Homo sapiens: one gene and its partner. The protein of the gene in region 1 purifies or fractionates together with the protein of each later gene. This does not show direct contact. Each region holds a gene or a part of one and is shown on either strand. Other genes may lie near its edges.

Region 1 (3,829 bases):
AGCTCTGATTACACTGAGGCATTCCAGCTAGCCACCCAGACTCTGTAGGTCACTCAGTTCTAATGGGAGGGGCCAGTGGCAACTAAGACATCTATATTCCATTGGCCCATAATTTTGCTAGATAACTAAATTTTGGTGAACAAGTAGAGGAACTTGAGTGTTATAAAAAGAAAAAAGCAAAGGTAACAACCTAACTTACAATTAATTTTGGCCCCCCTGTTTGATAATTAGAAGATTTTCAGGTGAACAGCCTGTGATTTCAGTGCCATTATATGAAATCTTAGATGGTAAAACAGAGTTACGTTCCTACAGTCTAGTGTTTTTGCTTCTCCTCCTTCCATTAACTATCAAACTATGGTAGCAGACCTGAACTATTTACTCTACTCTCTTATCAGAAACTGAAATGAAGTCCTTTGAACAAATTTAGAAAAAATTATTTAACACTTAATAGTTCTCATCCATATAATTACCAAAGCTGAATCCACATCATTCATTAATTTACTATGTGCCTAGATTAAGAGAATCCAAGTATATTATCTGGAACAGGATTGAGACAAGTAAAAAAAATAAATGTATGTTCACCTTCCCATCCTGATCTACCTTGTCCAATGAAGGCTTCCATAAACCCATCTCTTTTTCCAAAGAGAGCAAGACTATTGAGATGAAAGTGAATCATAAAAGAGCAACCAGAGAATCATAAAAAAGAGCAGTAGAGAATAAAATGGGAGGAGTTATTTATGGCCACTTATACATTATTAAAATTGTAAAAGCAAAAATTCATTTTACTTGGAATCCTGATCTGAAGTAATGATAGCATGTAGTTTTTCTAAAAACTCATATGTGAACCTTGAAGATTTTCAAAAAAGATAACAAAAATGAGAAATACTCTTTAGCAATTCAAATATCAGCAGGCATCAGTTTTTGTCTCTGGCCTATTTGCATCTCTTTCTTATACTGGAAGGAAGCCGTGCTGTGACTCATTACTACTCTTTTCTACCTTTTCACTGCATGTCCAAAGCAGGTGACCCTGCTCTTTCCCTTTCCCAGTGAAATTCAGTTAATCATAAGGGGAACGAGGCAAGCAAGTTAAACACAAAAACAAAACTTACCTGCAGTTTCCTTTCCATACCTCCTGATCCCCTCCTCCTATGCTCACCCTACCACTGTGGCTTCACCTCCCTCCCTGCTGGAACTTTCACCACAAATGTCACCAACAGAAGAAGGTTGAGGCAGGCTGAAGGAGAGGATATATTCCTAGAATCTAAAGGTGAAACTATGGATGCATTTTATTCATGGAAACATTGTTATCCACTTCCGTTGGATTCTATTATGTTTACTATGCCTCAGGTGGTTGAAGAGTTAAAGGGATTTTGATGGGCTGGCCTGATGTTTGGACATTAAAAAGTGTGCTATGAGGAACACTAGTTCTACAAGGCCACCAAACAAAGCAAAACCAAATAGTGATGTGTGATCAAATAGAGTTTGGAAAACACTTCATTCTGCTTCTCTCCCCTTTAATATTTACAATGCATATTAGCATATTAAAGGTTCTGAGAAATCATGGTTTTTTTTTGTTTTTTTAAAAAAAGGAACATTGGCACTGCTCTCAAAGACTCTATGTAAACAAATAACTTTTATCCCCGGCGAAATCCCTCAACACGTCAGGAAACATAATCTGTAGCAGAAGTCCACACACATTTTCTGTAAAGGGCTGGAGAGTACATATTTTAGGCTTTGTGGTAGGGTTGCCAGATAAAATATAGGACACCTAGTTAAATTTGAATTTCAGATAAATAATGAATAATTTTTAGTAAAAGTGTGTCCTAAATATGTCCTCAGAGGTATTTGTTGCATTGCCCTGTGTTTTTATTTGCTAAATCTGGCAACTCAACTTTCTAGACTAGACAGTCACCTTGGCAACTACTCAACCCAACTGTTGAAGGGTCAAAGCAGCCGTAAGCAAGGCATAAAATGAGCAGGAGTGGCTCTGTTCCCTGTTATTTATGAGCACGGGAACTTGAATTTCATAGCATTTTTATGTGTCAGGAATTACTATTTTTCTTTTGATTTTTTTTTTAACCATGAAATCCTAGCAGTTTGGGAGGCCGAGGAGGGTGGACTGCCTGAGCTCAGGAGTTCAGGACCAGCCTGGGCAACACGGTGAAACCCCATCTCTACTAAAATACAAAAAATTAGCCAGGCGTGGCACCGTGCGTTGTAGTCCCAGCTACTCAGGAGGCTGAGTCAGGAGAATCGCTTGAACCCAGGAGGTGGAAGTTGCAGTGAGCCGAGATCACACCACTGCACTCCAGCCTGGGTGACAGAGTGAGACTCCGTCTCCAAAAAAGAAAAAAAGTAAAAACTATTTTTAACTTGTGAACTATACAAAAACAGGCAACAGGCTGAATTTGGACCATGGGCTACAGTTTCCTGTAGTATAAATGCTTTCTGAATTAACAGGGTTTAATCAAGTGACTTCTTGTAATACAACTGATTGAGAATTCTTAGTATGCAAGTATCTATATCTGTCTCAGGACTGACTGACTCATCCTCTGACTACTGAAGAACTGAGCTTTGAACTCTAATGAGCCTGACGTGTTTCCAACTCACCTATTTAAGCATAAATCAGAACTCAGTGGATCTGATTGTAGCAGGCTGGGGAGGGGGCAGCGACTTAGCAGACCACATGTTCCCTTCACTTATCATAAAGAACTGCATACCAGTGTAATTGGCAGTGTAGGACTGAATGTTGACCTATACCAACATTTTAACTATTTAACCGTTTTTTAAAACTTTAATTGAAGAAAGTCAAGCAAAAAAAAATCAATTTTAAGAAGCAAAGAGTTAAAACTTACGTAAAACAGGGACAACTCTTCCTCTTTTAACTTTTAAATTATATCTGCGCCCAGAGGCTTGGGCAGGAAGGTGATTGAGAGTAACTTCTCCCACTGTTGGTTTCACATCAAACCATTCTATAAAATATGAACACAAAAGTTATTTCTTAAAAAGCCATAATGGCCATTGTCAAAATAAGATGCCATAATTTAAAAATTAAGTAAATTATTTAAATTTCTGTTTATCATATTCCTGAGTAGTGTGAATACCTAGGTTAATAGTCCCTCCCCACATTGCTCACAATATATTTAATACACAAAATAGTTACTTTAAAGGTAATATATTTATGTTCCTGTTAGTCTTTGGTAAGTTTTTATTCAATTATAATGTATATACAAAAAGGTAAACAAACAGTAAGTATAATTCACTCCAATGAATGTGTGAGTGAATACACTTAGGGTACCATCATCCAGATCAAGAAATGATGTGTTACCAGTACCCCAAAGCCCCCTCATGTCTTTCCAAGACAGTATTCTAAAAGGAAAATGCTATCCTGACTTCTATCATTATAGGTTAGTTTTATGTATTTTTATATTTGATAAAATCATACAGTATCTTTCATTTTGCACATATTTGTGAATTAAAATTATTTCCATGTTTCCCATATTTCTTTTTAACTAATCCTGTAAACTGAAATACTTGAGCAATTTCCTTGTGCTTCTAAAGATCACTTCCTCCTCTGCAACTCATCCTTCACTGAGGCTTGAAGAAGTTGCTAAGTTAATTCCTACTCACCAGTCATGCTCTGTCAACACTAAACACAACTCTGGCCAGTAACACTGCCAGAACTATAGTTATCACAATTAATTACTTTGGCCACAAATGAGAAATGTTTAAAATCAGCAGTCTCAGGAATCAAGACTGGAAAAAGAGCACTGCTCAAGAATTGGAAGGGTTTAGATGATCTGTAGTTAAAGAAAAAATGTGTTCAAAA
Region 2 (3,829 bases), on another chromosome or scaffold:
AACATCAGTCATTCTAATCTCTGCCATCAGTCAATCTACCCTCATTTATGAAGTCAAAGATGGAGACATTAATGGGATCTTTACCATAAATCCATATTCTGGAGTCATCACCACTCAGAAGGCCCTGGATTATGAGCGCACATCCTCTTATCAACTCATCATTCAGGCCACCAATATGGCAGGAATGGCTTCCAATGCTACAGTCAATATTCAGATTGTTGATGAAAATGATAATGCCCCAGTTTTTCTCTTTTCTCAATACTCAGGCAGCCTAAGTGAGGCTGCCCCAATTAATAGCATTGTCAGGAGCTTGGATAACAGCCCACTGGTGATTCGAGCCACAGATGCTGACAGCAACCGGAATGCTCTGCTTGTGTATCAGATTGTGGAGTCAACAGCAAAAAAGTTTTTCACGGTGGACTCCAGTACAGGTGCAATCAGAACAATTGCCAACCTGGACCATGAAACCATTGCCCATTTCCATTTTCATGTGCATGTGAGAGACAGTGGTAGCCCCCAACTGACTGCAGAGAGTCCCGTTGAAGTCAACATTGAGGTGACAGATGTGAATGATAACCCACCTGTTTTTACTCAGGCTGTGTTTGAGACTATCTTACTTCTACCTACCTATGTTGGAGTGGAGGTTCTGAAAGTTAGTGCCACAGATCCTGACTCTGAGGTACCCCCTGAACTGACATACAGCCTAATGGAAGGCAGTTTGGATCATTTTTTAATTGACTCAAACAGTGGAGTACTTACCATAAAAAACAACAACCTCTCCAAGGATCACTACATGCTGATAGTTAAGGTGTCTGATGGAAAGTTCTACAGTACCTCCATGGTCACCATCATGGTTAAAGAAGCCATGGACAGCGGCCTCCACTTTACACAAAGCTTCTATTCCACCTCAATCTCAGAGAACAACACTAACATAACCAAAGTTGCTATTGTCAATGCAGTTGGAAATCGCCTTAATGAGCCCTTAAAATACAGCATCTTAAACCCAGGAAATAAGTTCAAGATAAAATCTACCTCAGGGGTCATTCAGACGACTGGAGTCCCCTTTGACCGTGAAGAACAAGAGTTATATGAGCTGGTGGTAGAAGCCAGCCGTGAGCTGGACCATCTGCGTGTGGCCAGAGTGGTGGTCAGGGTTAACATTGAAGACATAAATGACAATTCTCCAGTCTTTGTGGGCCTCCCATACTATGCTGCTGTTCAAGTGGATGCGGAACCCGGGACTCTGATTTATCAGGTGACAGCCATTGACAAAGATAAAGGTCCAAATGGAGAAGTGACCTATGTCCTGCAGGATGACTATGGCCACTTTGAAATTAACCCTAATTCAGGGAATGTTATTTTAAAGGAAGCATTCAACTCTGACTTGTCCAACATTGAGTATGGAGTCACCATCCTAGCCAAGGATGGCGGAAAACCTTCTTTGTCTACATCTGTGGAGCTTCCCATCACTATTGTCAACAAAGCAATGCCTGTGTTTGATAAGCCCTTTTATACAGCATCTGTCAATGAAGACATCAGAATGAACACACCCATCCTAAGCATCAATGCCACCAGTCCAGAAGGCCAAGGCATCATATATATCATTATCGATGGGGACCCTTTTAAACAGTTTAACATTGACTTTGACACTGGGGTCCTGAAAGTTGTTAGCCCTTTGGATTATGAAGTTACATCTGCTTACAAGCTGACAATAAGAGCCAGCGACGCCCTTACTGGTGCTAGGGCTGAAGTCACTGTTGACTTGCTAGTTAATGATGTAAATGACAACCCCCCTATTTTCGATCAGCCTACATACAATACAACACTATCAGAAGCATCTCTTATTGGGACACCTGTTTTACAAGTTGTCTCTATTGATGCAGACTCAGAAAACAATAAAATGGTACATTATCAGATTGTCCAGGATACCTACAATAGCACAGATTATTTTCACATAGATAGCTCAAGTGGCTTAATCCTGACAGCACGAATGCTGGACCATGAGTTAGTACAACACTGCACTTTGAAAGTCAGATCAATAGATAGTGGCTTCCCATCACTGAGCAGTGAGGTTCTCGTTCATATCTACATCTCTGATGTAAATGACAACCCTCCAGTTTTTAATCAGCTCATTTATGAGTCATATGTGAGTGAATTAGCCCCCCGGGGCCATTTTGTAACCTGTGTACAAGCCTCTGATGCAGACAGCTCTGATTTTGACCGGTTGGAATATAGCATTTTATCTGGGAATGACCGGACGAGCTTTCTGATGGACAGCAAGAGTGGAGTTATCACATTGTCCAACCATCGGAAGCAGCGGATGGAGCCTCTGTACAGTCTCAATGTGTCTGTCTCTGATGGGTTGTTCACCAGCACTGCACAGGTGCATATTAGGGTACTTGGGGCTAACTTGTACAGCCCTGCCTTTTCACAAAGCACATACGTAGCTGAGGTGAGAGAGAACGTGGCTGCAGGAACAAAGGTAATTCATGTTCGAGCCACAGATGGTGATCCAGGGACTTATGGGCAGATCAGCTATGCCATCATCAATGACTTTGCCAAGGATCGATTCCTCATAGACAGCAATGGGCAGGTCATCACCACAGAAAGGCTAGACCGGGAAAACCCTCTAGAAGGGGATGTTAGTATTTTTGTGAGGGCCCTTGATGGTGGAGGGAGAACAACTTTCTGCACTGTGAGAGTGATTGTTGTGGATGAAAATGACAATGCTCCCCAGTTCATGACAGTGGAATATAGAGCCAGTGTCAGGGCAGATGTTGGAAGGGGCCACTTGGTCACTCAAGTTCAAGCCATAGATCCCGATGATGGAGCAAATTCAAGGATTACTTATTCCCTCTATAGCGAGGCCTCTGTTTCAGTGGCCGACCTCCTGGAAATCGATCCTGACAATGGCTGGATGGTCACAAAGGGTAATTTTAACCAGCTGAAAAATACAGTGCTTTCGTTCTTTGTCAAAGCAGTAGATGGGGGCATCCCAGTAAAGCACTCCCTCATTCCTGTCTATATCCACGTCTTGCCCCCTGAAACGTTCTTGCCATCATTCACCCAGTCTCAGTATTCCTTTACCATTGCAGAAGATACAGCCATTGGGAGTACAGTGGACACCCTGAGGATTTTGCCCAGTCAGAATGTCTGGTTCAGCACAGTTAATGGGGAACGGCCAGAAAATAACAAAGGGGGCATATTCGTCATAGAACAGGAAACAGGCACTATTAAGCTTGACAAACGCCTTGACCGTGAAACCAGCCCAGCTTTCCACTTTAAAGTAGCAGCCACTATACCCCTGGACAAAGTAGACATTGTGTTTACTGTGGATGTAGATATCAAGGTATTGGATTTGAATGACAACAAGCCAGTCTTTGAAACTTCAAGCTATGACACCATTATAATGGAAGGGATGCCTGTTGGCACCAAACTCACACAAGTGAGAGCTATTGATATGGACTGGGGAGCCAATGGACAAGTCACTTACTCCCTCCACTCGGATTCCCAGCCCGAAAAGGTAATGGAAGCATTCAATATTGACAGCAACACGGGCTGGATCAGTACCTTGAAGGACCTAGATCACGAGACAGACCCCACATTCACCTTCTCTGTGGTGGCCTCTGACCTTGGAGAGGCATTCTCTCTTTCCTCCACGGCCTTGGTCTCTGTCAGAGTGACAGATATAAATGACAATGCACCAGTCTTCGCGCAGGAAGTGTACCGAGGGAATGTGAAGGAGAGCGACCCACCGGGCGAGGTGGTAGCCGTCCTCAGCACCTGGGACAGAGACACATCCGACGTTAATCGCCAAGTGAGCTACCAT

What was found.
Region 2: the proteins of SPATA4 (region 1) and FAT3 purify together in Homo sapiens (affinity purification with mass spectrometry; one large-scale study listed by BioGRID and IntAct). This does not show direct contact.

What each region holds. Positions count from the first base shown.
Region 1 is NC_000004.12:176,185,264-176,189,092, forward strand, and holds part of SPATA4 (spermatogenesis-associated protein 4), read right to left. Parts: intron 2,973-3,829; coding exon 2,856-2,972; intron 1-2,855. UniProt on the Homo sapiens protein: May play a role in apoptosis regulation.
Region 2 is NC_000011.10:92,798,074-92,801,902, forward strand, and holds part of FAT3 (protocadherin Fat 3 isoform 1 precursor), read left to right. Parts: coding exon 1-3,829.